3 separate regions of the Homo sapiens genome follow, and all the other regions are linked to region 1. The links come from fine-mapping of genetic effects on gene expression. A gene starts in region 1. Each other region holds a variant in brackets. All regions are shown on one strand. Distances are between the middles of the regions. Region 1 holds the start of SUPV3L1 (Suv3 like RNA helicase). Region 2 overlaps LOC101928994 (a long non-coding RNA gene). Region 3 holds the start of LOC101928994 (a long non-coding RNA gene).

Evidence for each region. PIP is the estimated chance that this variant, and not a neighbour inherited with it, causes the effect.
Region 2: its variant is the best candidate, but not a certain one, in a credible set for the expression of SUPV3L1 in whole blood (INTERVAL, PIP 0.86).
Region 3: its variant is the best candidate, but not a certain one, in a credible set for the expression of SUPV3L1 in subcutaneous fat (GTEx, PIP 0.87).

What each region holds. Positions count from the first base shown.
Region 1 is chr10:69,177,500-69,182,499 of GRCh38, forward strand. It overlaps SUPV3L1 (Suv3 like RNA helicase), which reads left to right and starts at 2,735. Exons shown (of 15, transcript NM_003171.5): 1 at 2,735-3,063. The coding sequence starts at 2,793. RefSeq lists an enhancer at 2,450-2,819.
Region 2 is chr10:69,214,021-69,219,581 of GRCh38, forward strand. It overlaps LOC101928994 (a long non-coding RNA gene), which reads right to left. Exons shown (of 5, transcript NR_120648.1): 5 at 1,313-2,752. Among named protein-coding and RNA genes, the nearest start is that of HKDC1, 3.5 kb to the right of the region's middle. RefSeq lists an enhancer at 4,169-4,338. The variant G/A (reference allele first, on the strand shown) is at 3,057.
Region 3 is chr10:69,227,217-69,232,777 of GRCh38, forward strand. HKDC1 (hexokinase domain containing 1) reads left to right here. Exons shown (of 18, transcript NM_025130.4): 2 at 1-153; 3 at 5,548-5,561. It overlaps LOC101928994 (a long non-coding RNA gene), which reads right to left and starts at 5,274. Exons shown (of 5, transcript NR_120648.1): 1 at 5,155-5,274. RefSeq lists enhancers at 2,003-2,172, 2,472-2,531, 2,572-2,621, 4,618-5,561, 5,431-5,561. The variant C/T (reference allele first, on the strand shown) is at 2,238.

The sequences.
Region 1 (5,000 bases):
ATAGGAGGATACCAGTTACATAGTTACTGCATTAATCCATTCAACAAGCAAAATAAAACATTTATAGAGGCTCTAATATGTGTTAGGTGCTGATTACACTTACTGCTATAAATATGACATAACCAGTATAGATATGACATCTTTTTTTGTAAAAGCAAAAATTTTATATTGAATTTTCCCATTTCAATGTTTATAGTAGAACTTAATGAATGGCTGAAAGGGAAAGCCTGTATGTGCTATCATAAAATTCAGATTGCATTTTCTACCTGCAAGGAGGTGCAAACAAAATTACAGTTAAAATAGTTTTGAGGATTTTTTTTTTCTGTAAAACTATACTAGGGTTGGGCTAGATCTGTAAGACTAGTAACTGCCAGGTGCTGTGGCATGCACCTGTAGTTCCAGTTACTCAGGAGGCTGACACAGGATTGCTTGAGCCCAGGAGTTCACGATCACCCTTCCAAAGAAAAAAAAAGACTCGTACAAATGTTGATTCTGGCCTAATATGCTGCTCCTGTCCAAAAAGCCCACCTATTTGCTTTGAAATCAGAAAGACTGGCTGGGCACGGTGGCTCACACCTGTAATCCCAGCACTTTGGGAGGCCGAGGCAGCTGGATCACTTGAGGCCAGGAGTTCTGAGACCAGCCTGGCCAACATGGTGAAACTAAAGAGAATACAAAAATTAGCCAGGTATTGTGGTGCAAGCCTGTAGTCCCAGCTACTCGGGAGGCTGAGGCATGAGAATTGCTTGAGCCTGGGAGGTGGACGTTGCAGTGAGTTATGATTGCACCACTGCACTTCAGCCTGGGCAACAGAGTGAGACTGTCTCAAAAAAAAGAAAAAAAAAAGATTTAGATTTGTATCTGACTCTACCACTTACTGGGGCAAGTTAGTTAACCTGGTGACAATAATACCTCTAAATTGTTGTCAAGCATATTAAAAGATTAAAAGGAACAACATAGTGCTTGCCTCAGTTACGTATTAAACGTTTGGTTTATCCTTCATTCTCCTAGTTTCCAAATCTGACGAGACATCATTGTTTATTAACATTTTCTAGCATATTTAGTCACTCACTACATTATCTAAGGAGTCTTGTAAAACCTCTCATTCCACATACATGGTCTCCATCATAACTCAGACACAGGAATCTACCACCTTCAGCTAGAACTGTTGATAAAGTTGTAATTTTCCTCCCTGCATATTTGTGTTTATCCTAGTCTATCCTAGGTACTTCCTAATGAATGATTTCTCTTCTCAAAAATATAATCACTATTTGTAAGCCATAGAATTAGGTCTGCGTTAACTCTGTTACTTAAATTTTTTTCAGTATGTCTTTTCCTTAGTTAAGCCTCTGCTTACATCGTTTCCACTGACTAGAATTTACTTACCGCTTCTCTATGTTTTACTTTTAAGTCTGGCAGAAATCTCCTTACCACTCTCAAATTGCTCCTTTCTTTGAACTGCCATTAGTCTATTAGAGTAATAAGTGCATTATTTAACGTGTACTGTTCTTACCACCAAAACCAGATCAGAACCTTTGAAAGCAAAGGACTGTCTCCTTGTATCCCTGATGTTTAAAAATTATTTTGTGAATCAAAGGCACGTGGCAAATTGTTACTGGAATCCTATTAGACATACAGTATTGTATATTACATAACACGTTCCTTCAAGTTGTAAGATCTTAATGATGTAAGTATAAAGAGATGTGGATGGAGATGCTAAACTTGTGAATTTTTTTTTTTTTTAGACGGAGTCTCACTCTGTTGCCCAGGCTGGAGAGCAGTGGCCCGATCTCGGCTCACTGCAACCTCTGGCACCCAGGTTCAAACGATTCTCCTGCCTCCGCCTCCCTAGTAATTGGGATTACAGGTGTGCACCACCACGCCCGGCTGATTCTTGTATTTTTAGTAGAGAGGGGATTTCACCATGTTTGCCAGGCTGGTCTCGAACTCCTGACCTCAGATGATCCACCGGCCTCGCCCTCCCTAAGTGCTGCGATTACAGGCGTGAACCACCACGCCCGGGTTAAACTTGTGAATTTAACATGTTGCAGCCTCACATGAGAACACGGTATTCAACAAATGCAATGGAACGAAACTATGGCTGGGGTACAGAGCACGTATTTTTGCCATGTGGTCACAACTATGTGGTCATAGCTGCTAGGATGATGTACGCAAACTGCTCACATTAAAGCAAAAGTACTTACGTAATACAAGGGGTTTAATAGTGCAACAATATTTCTTAGCAACATTTCTGAGGGGCATATCAAGTTATTATCGCTAACGTTATCATATCAGGAAATGACGGTTAACAATGCAAGAAACTTTTGGGAAATGCTATTTAGTGTTTGAGTCCGCAAGACATACTCGTACCCTGAGCATTCGCAGTTGCTGCTCCACCACCCATTCTCTCACTGCTCACCCACGTGCTTCTGGACACTTGCTTACCAAAGTACTAGTTTGCATCACGTGACACGACTAGCAGGCCCCCTCCGCTCATGTATGACATCCCAAAGATGCCTGATTATTTTCCCTTCTTTAGGGAAAGGTGGTCCCAATCACCAACAAAACAGAGAAAGAGAACGAGAATTATCTCTAGTGGTTTTGCCTGCTAATCTTCTTTTTCCCTGAAAGAACACCCTCACGGCACGGCGTTTTCCTTAACGGTCAGGCGTTTTCCCGGGCAGCTTACCTGCTCGGCCTGGGTCTTTCTGGACAGCAGGCGCTGGAGGTGCGCGTCACTGTCCGCCGCCGTGTCCGCGGCTGCGCCAGACAGTGTAGAACCTGCGGCCTCGATGTCCTTCTCCCGTGCCCTATTGTGGGCTCGGCTCCCGGCGGGGCGCCAGGCTGGCCACCGGGCAGCCATCTGCTCTGCCCTTCGTCCCCACTTTGGGCCCTTTCCCGGGGTTCTGGGGCAAGTTTCTGTCCTTGCCACCGCCTCCTCCTCTGCCTCCGGTGGCTCCAAAATACCAAACACGTCCTTGTTCGTGCCCCTGACTGTGAAACCTCAGGGCCCCAGCGCCGACGGCGACGTCGGGGCCGAGCTAACCCGGCCTCTGGACAAGAGTGAGTGCGGGAACTACTGAGGGCGGCAGAGGGTGGTGTCTGCTGGGCCGAGGCTGGTTGGGAGGAAGCTACATCCCCTTCCCCTGGGGATCCGAGGTCCCATCGAGTGTTGTCATCGTGCCTCTCAGTGTCTGCCTCCTTCGCTGGTGTGTGAGCCCCTCAAACGGCTTAGGACTGTATCTGATTAATTCTTAACGCCTCGTCCCAGAAGCGGCCTTTTCCCTTTTACTGCCCTGCTCTCTGAATGGTTTAGACACTCATGTGTTGGGAAGATTTGACTTTTTTGAGTTGTTAGGTGGACGCCCGCTCTTTCTTGCATTCTTTGTTTCTCTCCCACCCCCGAATGGGATGTGGCAGTGAAAAGCCAGCGGAGACTCCTTTTAGGATTCTTTATCATTGAGGAGGCGCCGACTCATACCACGCTGTTAGGCTGTGTGGTGGTTGCCAAGAGGAACCAGACTCAGATCCAGATCCCCTCTTAAGAAACGTAACGGTATCGTGGGGGAGGACACGTGTATGGAAAGTGAACTGTAATACAAGGTAGAACATGACAAGGTCTAGAACAAGGTAGGGTGTCCCCGGCTCCAGAGAGAAAAGAAGAGGTAGCATCAGTTAGTGGCAGCGGGCTTTGCTCAGCAAAACTTAAGTTTGGATGGATTCGTTGACAGAGAGGCATGTGAATGTTTTCAAGGTGAGTTTCGGGATGATTAGGGAGGTAAGGGAGTTTCCTCTGACCATATGAAACTGGGAGATTGAGGAAATGCTATCCAGAATTGTCTCCAGGAATAGGAGGAGAAATGTCTCACTTCAACAAGCGACATTGGTGCCTCCTATTGTAAATCTAAAATATAGACTACAATATGTTTTTCAGAGCAGAAGTACAGTACTTTCACTAAACATGTGATGGAACTCACAGTATATGTTATTCTTTGACATATTCTTCCAGTGTTAAGCAAGGCCTTTCACTTTACTTGGTGCTGGGAGACTGTCTTTATTTTCTGCTGTTATAACATAATACCTGAGACTGAGTAATTTATAAACAATAGAGGTGTATTTGACTCATGGTTCTGAGCCGGGATCTGATGAGGGCCTTTGGCTGCATCATCACATGGTGGAAGGTGGAAAGGCAAATGAGCCTGTGAGACAGAGAAAGGGGGCTGAACTTATCCTTTTTTCCTGTGATAACTGACTCCTGTGATAATGGCATTAATCCACTCACAAAGGCAAACTCCTCATGTCCTAATCACCTCTTAAAGGTTCCACCTCTCAACTGTTAAAATAGCAATTAAATTTCAATATGAGTCTTGGAGAAGACATTCAAACCATAGCAGAGAATGTGTTATTTTAATAATGTAATTATACTATTATTTATTTTTAAATTATAAAAATACATAAAATTTACTCTTTTAAGCTTTTTTTTAGTTTTTTTTTCTTTACTTTTTTTTTTTTAGAGACAGGGTCTTGCTCTGTTACCCAAGCTGGAGTATAGTGGTATGATCATAGCTCACTGTAACCTCCAACTCCCAGACTCAAGCAATCCTCCTGGCTCAGCCTTCTAAGTAGCTAGGAATACAGGCGTGCATCACCATGCCTGGATAATTTTTTAATTTTTTGTAGAGATGGGGTCTTGCTATGTTGCCCAGGCTGGTCTCAAACTTCTGGGCTCCAGGGATCCTCCTGCCATGGCCTCCCAAAGCCCTGAGATTACAGACCTGAGCCACTGCACCCAGCCAGTCTTAATTGTTTTTAAGCACATAGTTCACTAGCGTTAAGTATATTGACATTGTCGCGAAATAGATGAGAACTTTTTCATCTTGCAGAGTTGAAACTCAAACAATAGTTTACCCATTAAAGAACAATTTTCCATTATTTTATATTATTTGAAGGCATAAGGTAATTTGGATGAGATAATTTGCCTTATTGTATTCAAATATTGA
Region 2 (5,561 bases), 37 kb after region 1:
GGAGTATCTGTGTTCATTCTTCTGCATGGGAGATTGGTCCTTTCTCCCTCACTTATATATTTATACAATTATTTGTTAACATCAGTATGGGCTAATGGAAATGTAGACTTTGGGTTATAATCCAATCATACTTTATCTTGCCCAATTTTTTCTTTCTTTCTTTTTTTTAACACTCCTATCAATGTTTTCTAGCTTTGGTTATTAGGAACTTTTTCACTTTCAGTTGGCTCCTGTGTTCCTTTGACACATCCGTATCATTTGGTTTTTGTTTTGTTGATTAGTTCCTTCCTTTCTGGCACTACAAGATGCGCCAGGACCATCTTGTATAGACCTGGTTCTTTGATCTGGGCACTAGGTGTGCTTGTTGCTACTGGGTGTCATTACTTCTAGTGTTTCTCAGCTGACAAAGCAAGGACATATGCACGTGTATACTAAGCTATATACACGTCTTCAAATCTTTATATAAACATATATGTATAGTCATCTATATGAATATCAAGCTAAACATGAGTGTATACTGATGTCCTCAATTCTAATCCAGTGACATGGATCATTCTAGCCTTCTCCCCTGCTTGAAGCCTCTCACTCCAGCAGCAAGAAACCTCCCTCCCGCCATCCACCATCCATGTACTTAATTGTTCAATTCCAGTATTCTTGTGTAGTGGTTTCAGAATTGTTAAGCGTGCTCTTGCAGGAAGCAACTTTATCAATCAGAATACAGTGCTACATACACTTCCTTTTACTTGTAGTCTTACTCTATTAATTTCCAAAGTTTCTTAGGTCAGCATATTTTCCCTCCCCTTCCCCTTCAGTGAGGCTATTTCACACACTTGCAACACAGTTAGACTCATGTCACAGTCTGTGTTGCGTCGCTGACCTCCTAAATGTTTTTTTGAATGTATGTACATTAAAGTTCATTCTTTGTGCTGTCAAATTCTATGGGTTTTGAAAGTGTGTCATGTATTTGCCGTTACAGTGTCATACAGAATAGTTTCACTGCCCTAAAAACGCCCTTGCGTTTCACTTATTCAGCATCCCCCACCTTTCCAAATCCCTGGCCACTACTGACTTGTTTACTGTCTCTATAGTTTTCCCTTTTCCATACCTGTGGGTTTGGGTTTTTTTGGGGTTTTTTTTTTTTCCGCTGAGATGGAGTCTGGGTCTGTCGCCCAAGCTTGAGTGCAGTGGTGCAATCTCAGCTCATTGCAAAATCTGTTCCCCAGGTTCAAGCTATTCTTGTGCTTCAGTCTCCTGGGTAGCTGGGATTAGAGGTGTCTACCACCATGCCTGGCTAATTTTTTTTTGTATTTTTAGTAGGGATGGGGGTACCACCTGGGCCAGGCTGGTCTCGAACTCCTGACCTCAAATGATCCACCTGCCTTGGCCTCCCAAAATGCTGGGATTACAGGGGTGAGCCACCGTGCCTGGCCAAGCTTTTTTATATAGCTTTTTAACCAATCTCTTGTTTTTGGCTCTATGTCTTGCCCCAGACCTCTGATTCCTGAGCATTTTAGAGTTTTACAAACGTCACAGCTCCTTTCTCACCCGAGTCACCCTCTGCGGGCACTCAGGTTTCAGTGTTTGCTCTACTAAGCAATTACTTCCGTGAGCTTCCTGTCTTCCAGAATTATGTTAAGATCTCTTATCAGTCACTGTTTCCTTTCTTTTTGTCCTTGTAGGTTAATGCCGTGTTTAACCAGAAGTCTCATTTGCTTTGAAAAGTTGGTTATTTTGTGCAATTGAGATTGTAATTATTCTGAAAAATGTTAAAAGTCACATGAACTGCATTTTCTTGTATGGCTTTTCTTTCCTTGATAGGTGTTTTGCAAATATGACCCTTAATGTACAGTTGTGATTTAGAAATCATGTCAGAATTTCTTCCTGAGCATTCCTTGTCTTCGGTTCAGAATAAACCTGTAAAAATGATTAGCAGCATTCTTTTGAAACTTGCTGAGGTTAGCATTTCTGCTTCATTTGTGGCTGCTCCGATAGAGACACCATTGTGACTGTAACCACTGGCAGCGTTTGGAAGTCTCTACATTGGTTTTCTTATTATGGAAGTTTGCTCTCCCACACAGTTTCTGATTCTTTTGCAGCAAGTGGAATACCAGCAGGTCACACTGATTTATGTTATGACGACTTAACTTTGGACTTACCATTAAAAAGAATACAGGGCAGAATTCAAGAGCTGTTTTCTTTAGTAACAGGAATAGAATTTCCATAAAATTCCCAACTGTTCCTTTAATTCCAGTACATGGAACAGGTACTTTCTAATGGTTTAGGATCATGCCTTACTGAGTGGACTGAAAGGTCTGCACACATTTTCTTATCCCAAGAGACCAAGTTGGGTGAGCGAAGAGGGGTCCCCAGCCAGGGAAAGGCTGAGCTTCAGGAGATGCTTCTAGTGTGCCCACTGTAGACCACATGCCTTTCCTTGTGTGATAATTTGCTTTCTTTCTCACTGTGACCACTGACATAGCTATGAAGCTTTTACAGATATGAATATAGACTTGGACCTTTACCTGCAGTTTAAGAAAAGCCAAAGTAGGACCCCAGGGCCTGTGCACTTTCCACTGTGTTAGAAAGAGCTTAGGGCCATTTTTCCAGCTGAGGCCCCAAGTCTCCCCGTGCCTTGTTTCCAGCCTAGCCAGTGTAGCACAGCGGGCAAGCAAGAACTCTGCAGCTAGACTGCCTGCGTTCAAATCTCGATTTCACTGCGTCCCAGTTGGGCTCTGTGCCTTGGTTTCTCCATCTGTAAAATAGGGAGAATGACAGTTACTGTGGAATTAATATCGTAAGACATCTAGTAAACCCCATGGGGAAGTGTTTGCTAAATAAATAGGTAAATTTTGCTGGACTTCTAGTCCTCCCACCATACTCAGTACTTAAAGAGAAACAGAAATTATCTTTGAGCCTTGCCAAAACGGACCGTGTAGATTAAAGTGGAGCTCTATGAAACGGAGATGTGTCTACAGATGGGAGAGTTTCCCTTCTTACATGGAAGATTTGGGCCAGATGGGTGATACGCTTTAACTAAAATGTCACTTGTCAGTGTC[G/A]GCCCTCAAATGGGTGTTCTTAAGCAAAATCCAACTACTTATAAGATTTAAACCTAGATATCCTTGAATAGCCAATAGAACTGTAGTAAGGGTGAAAAATCCCAAGACTTGAATTGGAGTAATCAGATGAGGAATGATAAAATAACCTAATTATTTTGTCTTGATTCTATAAAGTGAGAGGGCTGAGCTAGATGACTCCAAATGCATGTGATCTCTGTAATCATTAAACTTCCTGGTTTAGTCACCTTACTCAGGCCTGGAATGTAGACGCTAATGTGCTCAGATTAAAAAGGGAATGATGCAATAGATGAAAATCCTCTGGTGTCATTTGCCTGATTAAAATTCCAAAGGCTGCCTATCTGACTCACACAAGCAACCGTGAGATTACAGAGATCTTTGGTTATGGTTTGCATCTTTTGACCACTGGCTACTGTAACCTCTTATCCCTATGTCGAACAAATCAATGACAGTTGGTTCATACTGCACTGCCCAGGTTACATTTTTTTTTTTTTTTGAAATGGAGTCTCACTCTGTTGCCCAGGCTGGAGTGCAGTGGTGCAATATTGGCTCACTGCAACCTCCACCTCCTGGGTTTAAACAGTTCTCCTACCTCTGTCTCCTGAGTAGCTGGGATTGCAGGCACCCGCCACCATGCCCAGGTAATTTTTGCATTTTTAGTAGAGACAGGGTTTCACCATGTTGGCAAGGCTGGTCTCGAACTCCTGACCTCAGGCAATCTGCCCACCTCCCACCTCAGCCTCCCAAAGTGCTGGGATTACAGGTGTGAGCCACTGCGCCCAGCCCAGGTTACTTTTTAAATGGGGGAATTAAATGCTGGGTGTGGTGATGCAAGCCTGTAGTCCTAGCTACTCAGGAGGCTGAAGCCAGAGGATCACTTGAGCCCAGGAGTTCGAATCCAGCCTGGGCAAGACTGGATGGAGTTCAAATCCAGCCTGGGCAAGACAAGATGTAGTGAGACTCTGTTTCTGAAATAAATCAACTAGTGGGGGAATTAGGATAAATAATGTCATCACTTACGGGCAGATGGCCTTCCCAGGATGTTATCCTCAGCCAATGGGGGCTAGGGCCTAGGATGCGCATTTCAGAATACCAACAATTCCACCTGGTTTGGGGCACTGAATGGTTTGGGGAACTAAAGGTTCATCTTTGTTTGCTTGTGTAATAAAGGAGCAAGCTAAAAGTCATAGTCTGAGGGTAAATTGACTGAAAAGGATGGGGATCCTCAATCTGGGAGACAGTTTTAATATGCTTATATCAATCTGAATAAAGCATCTGGAGTAATTTTAACCGAGCCTCCTCTGCATTGTGGGCTTAAGTGAGACCTGATGGCTCGTCCACACGGCAATGGGTAGAGAGCACTGAATTCCAGCTACTCAGGAGGCTGAGGCAGGAGAATTGCTTTAACCCAGGAGGTGGAGGTTGCAGTGAGTTGAGATTGAGCCACTGTACTCCAGCCTGGGCAACAGAGTGAGACTCTGTCTCAAAAAAAAGAAAAAGAAAAACAAATTCTTAACATCCCAACAGAATGCTGCTACTAATAGTTATCAATTGCGTATCTATTGAGTATCTATTGCGTGGAGAAAGCAGGGCTGGAGAGCCAATGCCATGTATTATAGCTGGGCCCTGGAATCAAACTTCCAGGATTGACCCCTTGCTGTCCTGTTTATGGCTTTGTGATCACGTAACCTTTCTGGGCCTCAATTTTTTCATCTATAAAATAAGAGTGGGCCGGGAGCAGTGGCTCATGCCTGTAATTCCAACACTTTGGGAGGCTGAGGTGGGTAAATCGCTTGAGCCCAGGAATTCAAGACCAGCCAGGGCAACATGGCAAAACCCTATCTCTACAAAAATACAAAAATTAGCTGGGCATGGTGCCACGTGCCTGTAGCCCCAGCTACCCTGGGGATTGAGATGGGAGGATCACCTGAGCCCAGAAGGCTGATGTTGCAGCGAGTCATGATTCCACGACTGCATTCCAGCCTGGGGGATGAATGAGACCCTGTCTAAAAAATAATAATAACAAGAGTAATAAAAACAAAATGGGATTGGTAAATGCTCCATCCATGTTAGCCGCTGTTGTTAACGCTGTTGTTATTGGTTTCATTAGCCAGCCAGTGACTGTGGGAAGAGTGCAAGGTTGATTGTACCCATGTATTGGGTGCTTTCTGGGTCCTTCTCATGTCAAGTATGATGAGTGAGAAGTGAGTGAATAAAACATCTCAGTGGCCTGAGACATTTCTCTTTTTTTTCTTTTTTTGAGATGGAGTTTTGCTCTTGTCACCCAGGCTGGAGTGCAATGGCGCGATCTCGGCTCACTGCAACCTCTGCCTCCCAGGTTCAAGTGATTCTCCTGCCTCAGCCTCCCAAGTAGCTGGGATTACAGGCACCTGCCACCACTCCTGGCTAAGTTTTTTGTATTTTTAGTAGAGATGGGGTTTCACCATGTTGGCCAGGCTGGTCTCGAACTCCTGACCTCATGATCTG
Region 3 (5,561 bases), 50 kb after region 1:
TCCTGTATCACATGCGGCTCTCCGATGACACCCTTTTGGACATCATGAGGCGGTTCCGGGCTGAGATGGAGAAGGGCCTGGCAAAGGACACCAACCCCACGGCTGCAGTGAAGATGTTGCCCACCTTCGTCAGGGCCATTCCCGATGGTTCCGGTGAGTGCAGTTGTCCGCTGCCAGGGTCCCTGGCTCCTCTTGGCTGATGGGTGTCTAAAGTACCTAAGGTTTGCCCCTGTACCTTGGCTTCTCTCTCTAGCCCTCTCTCTGCTGTCCCACCCTCCCTGCCCCTCTCTGCTTCAGTCCTGCTGAATCCCTCTTGCAGTTCTGCAGTTCTGCAGCCCCAGGCACCGTGGCTTCTCTGCCCATCGTGGCCTCACACATTTGCTCCCTCTCCTCCTGGAGCATCTCCATGTTCTTCCCTGGTGAGTATCAACGTGGCTTTTCCGTCTCAGCGTAGTGGTCCCTGCCTCCATCTAGGAAGTATCCCTGTGCTGGGCTGGGTGCTTGTCAGGGCACTTGTCACTTTGCTGTGTCCCCACTCTGAGTCTCCACCAAATTAACCACTCACTCCGTGGGTCCAAGGTCTTACCACAGTGTTCCCAGCACCTAGTGTAGCACTGGGAATGAGTAATGGGAGCAAGAATGATGTAGTGGAAATCACATTCAATGATAATTCAACAAACCTGGGTCTGAGGCCCAGCTCTGTCACTCTCAGTGACCTGAGGCAAGTGTTTAGCCTCAGTTTGCCCAGCTGTAGAATGAGAAATGGCCTATGTATCTGTTTCCTATGGCTGCTGTGATGTATTACTACAATCACAGTGGCTGAAAACAATCGAATATATTCTCTGACAGTTCTGGTGGACGGAAGTTTGCAGTGGGTCTCACTGGGCCAAAATTCAGGTGTCGGCAGGGCTGCGTTCCTTCTGGAAGCTTGAGGGGAGAATCTGTTTCCTTAACTTTTCCAGTTTCGAGAGGCCACCTGCATCCTTGAGGCATGCCCCTTTCTGTTCTCAAAGCCAGCAGTGTAGCCTCTTCAGGTCCCTCTCTGACCTGACCTTCTGCCTCCTTTCAACATTTAAAGATCCTGTGATCACGTTAGTCATGCTTAGATAATCCAGGATAATCTCCCAACTTCAAGGTCAGCTGATGAGCAATTTTGATCCCATCTGCAACCTTAATTCCCCTTTGCCTTGCACCCTCAGATATTCACAGGATCTGGGGATTAGGATGTGAGCATCTTTGTTGGGGGTGGGGGACATTATTTTGCCTACAATGGCCTAGAAATCTGTAGATAGGATCTATGAGGTCCCATCCAACTCTTCCATTCTCAGCCTCTGAATGAAGCTGTAAGAGGGAAAAGGGCTGCTACTGGCCTGGAGTGGTGGCTCACGCCTGTAATCCCAGAACTTTGGGAGGCCGAGGGGGGCAGATCACTTGAGGTCAGATGCTCGAGACCAGCCTGGCCAACATGGTGAAACTCCACCTCTACTAAAAATACAACAATTAGCCAGGTGTGATGGCATGCACCTGTAATCCCAGCTACTCGGGAGGCTGAGGCAGGAGAATCACTTGAACCTGCAAGGCAGAGGTTGCAGTGAGCCGAGATTGCGCCACTGCACTCCAGCCTGGGTGACAGAGCGAGACGCCATCAAAAAAGAAAGAAAGAAAGGAAGAAGAAAGAAAGAAAGAAAGAGAGAGAAAGAAGAAAGAAAGGAAAGAAAGAAGAAAGAGAAAGAAAGAAAGAGAAAGAAGAAAGAAAGAAAGCAAAGAAAAAGAAAGAAAGAAAGAGAGAAAGCTGCCATTTACTGAGCAACCACTGTGGTCATGGGGTGCTGGGGACTCGCTGAGCCACATATTTCCTGTGACAACCCTGTGGTGTGGCTGTTCAGACAGAACCACCAAGGACCAAGGGGTTTCTCCCATGTCAGGGTCCCAGTGCCCAAACCGAGCTCGTGAAAGAGCACTGGGGCTCTCGCAGGAGCAGGGTCTGAGGTTTGGGAGCTCTCAGGGGGCTTTGATGGGATCAGTCGTGTTCTGGACCTCTCTGGAGCAATGCCTGGATCAAGGTAGCTTGGCTCTGCTGGTTGAGAGGCCCTGGGACACTGCACTGGGAAAGGCCCTGTGCCCTCACTTGTGGGTAGGTGCTTGGGATGGACAGTGCCCTGTCCTGGAAGGACGTTGAGCTTCGGAGAGAGACAGCCCTACTTTGAAATCTTGGCTCTGTCCTTGCCACAGCTTGA[C/T]GAGAGTACTGGGACGTGTCCTTGACAGGGCATCTGGGGCCCCTGGGAGGAAGCAGCTGAGTCATGTGGGGAGCACCAGGGCTAAGTCCGCCTGGCTTCCTGGACTGCAGCCCCTCCTCCTGATACAGACAAGGTGTGTCCCCAGAAGCAAGGGAAGGTGGCCTTTGATGGTCTGGAGGCTCTGGGACAGGCGGTGTCCTCCTGGCCCTGGCTGCTTCTGAAGGTTCAGAAGTGAAACTAACTAAGTCATAGAAACTCTCTCCTCCTTAGCCGGGAAGACGCCCAGCTCCCCATCCCCGTCTCCGCAGAGCCTCTCACCACACAAAGCATCTCACCAGTGATTCTGTTGTGCCGAGGTCCCTGGGCCCAGAGTCCCTAATAAGCCAGGTGTTCTTGGTAAATCCCGGCACCATACATGATTGTCAGGATTTAATGAGATCATGTGGATGGCGTGCTTTAACATCTCTAAAATCTTGTCCCAAGTCCTCCTAGCTCTTGTGAGCTGGTGGTATAATTTCATGATTACCGACAAAAAACAAGCAAAACTCTCCTAATTCCTTATGGTGTCCGTTTCAGAAATGTATGCAGCTTCCAGAGAAGTCCTGAGTTTGCCTACTCCCATCAGGACCTATCTGCGAGGGAGTCACCTGTTTGAGCCTTAGTTACCACCCAGCCTTTTGGTCAGGGGGCTGCAGTGGTCTGTTCTGACAGGATCAAGTGCCTTAAAAGTGCTGTGTTAATACTGGAGCCTTCTCTGCCAGTCATGGAAGGGGCATGGGAAGCATGAGGGTGACTGTGATTCTTTGGCTTGACCCCTGCTGGCTCTGTTCCAGGCCTTAGCCTCCAGTCAGCCTCCAAGGCCAAATAGGCCTTGGGGGTGAGCCCGGGAGCCCTGAGGTCGTCAGCCTGGAGCCTCGAGTGTTTCCTAATACACACTTTCCCAGCCCCTCCCCCTGGGGACTCTGAATCTCCAGGAATCTCCGCATTCAGCCACTGTGCACCTTTGGGAGACTCTGCACTGGGTAAAAGGAGGGAGTGAAGGCACCAGCACCAGCAGTGACTTACGAGAAGGGAACCATTGGGTCCAAGGCAGTTCATGGAGGGTCCTCTGGAGCAGGCAGATTGGCCAAAGCAATTTACCCCGCTTAGGACACTGTTTTCTCTTTTCTTTCTTTTTAGAAACAAGGTCTCCCTCCGTTGCCCAACCTGCAGTGCAATGGAGCCATCATAGATCACTGCAGCCTTGACCTTCTAGGCTCAAGTGATCCTCCTGCTTCAGCCTCCCAAGTAGCTGGGACTACAGGTGCATGCCACTACGCCCAACTGACTTTTTTGTCTTTTGTTTTGTAGAGACAGGGTTTTACCATATTGACCAGGCTGGTGTTGAACTCTTGGCAAGGGATTAATTCTCCTGCCTGGGCCTCCCAAAGTGCTGGGACCACAGGTGTGAGCCACCGTGCCTGGCCGGGGCTGTTTTCTTGATGTCTGTGAAGACTCTGAGGCCCCACAGACTGCTGTTGCCTGGGCAAGTCCTCCCTCTCCCAGGGTCCACTGGTTCCTTTTTTCTGGGGTCAGAGACAGAAGGGATCACACCATGTGGCATCCATGAAATGGCACCTCGAGCCACTGGTGGAGTGAGGTGTTTGATAGTGATTGCGATGCGGGCCGGGAGTGGGATGCCTCCACACCGACACTGGCCAGGTCTCAGCACATCCCCTCCCGTCCGATGGCAGTGCAGCAGCCTCTTCTTTTGTTAAACCCTCAGTCTATTCTGGTTGGTGTCAGAGGCATTTGTCCCCAGAATCTCAGATCTTGGCACTCCCTAGCTTAAAATCTTTCTGCAGCTCCCTCTCACCTTCCAGATAAAGCCCAAGCTCCTTGGGGTGGATAGCTTTTCCAAATCCTTCCAAATTTAACCTGAGAGCCACCTTCCAACCTCATTTCTGTGACAGCTGCCCTCCTTTGGCAAAAGCACACTCACTCTTAGCGGATGCTTTCTCATTCCTTTGCCCGTGGTTCCTCTCCCTGGGACCCCCGCTCCCGGCAGCCTGGCAGCCTGACTCCTGCTCACCCTTCAACACTCAGCTCTGTGTCCCCTCCCTGCAAAGCCAGCTGCCTTTGTCTCCCAGCTTTGACCTGGATATCTCTCCCTGTGCCTCTCACAATCTGAGCACTGGTCCTACTATATGGAAATAGCTGATTTATGCGCCTGTATTTCGGATCAATTTCCCAGGGAGCACACCGTCTTTCATCTGCGCATCCCTAGCACCTAACACATGTTACTCAGCACAGAGTAGATGCTCAGTAAATGTGTGGACATAGATTGTGGGATCTACCCTACCTCCTACACAGCAAGACAGCATCTGGGAGAACCCTCTTACTTGGTGCATAATATATACTAATAAAAGTTGCATAGGATTAACTCCCTGAATTCCCTCACCAAATAATAAATGACTCCATCAGCTCCTTTGTGGCTGATCTGTGAAGGTAAGAATTTCCGGATGTCTACACAAAAACAAAAAATCGAGCTGGCTGCACCTTTGCTACTCTAACTATGGTCTACAGACCAGCAACAGCAGCAACATCACCAAGTTGGCCAGGCTGTTCTTGAACTGCTGACCTCAGGTGATCTGCCCGTCTCGGCCTCCCAAAATGCTGGGATTACAGGCATGAGCCACTGTGCCCAGCCCCCACCTTTCAATTAATGGCATCTGTCTTGGGCTGGGCTGGGTTGTGTTCCAATGTCTCCTTTTGGAGTGGCTCTGGCCTAAAAAAATCAGCATCCTTGGCACCTCAAGGGCCATTGTTTAGTCCCTGTCTCCTCTCCCCTCCAGGAGTGTTTTCCCTCTGCCCATAGGATCATCGGCTGCAGGAGGCTGGCTGCTCCTCGCCGCACATCCTGTCTTCCCCCTCATACCTTTATCCGAGTTTCCCCAGGCTGGGAGCACCAGCTCTCTCTTCCCAGTGATGGCATCCCAGGATGGGCTCCACCGTCGAGGCCACCTCTCATACCACCGCAAGGGCTGTGCTCACATTTGCCCTCTCCAGTTGACATGCACATTCCTACAGCATGAGCCAGTGGGTTGGGCTCAGGCTGCAGAGTCAGGCTGACTTAGTTCACATCTCAGCTCTGCGCCTTACCTCGAGGGCTCTGAGAAATGGCCAGAGTCCTCAGCCTTGGCAAATGAGCATAATGATACCTAGTGGCTGTGATTTGAAGACGTTGATTATATGTCCAACCTCTAATGCAGAGCTTGCCATATCTGTAGTAGACCCTCAATAAATGGAAACTGAATTTGTTTCTTAATAGAAAATGGGGAGTTC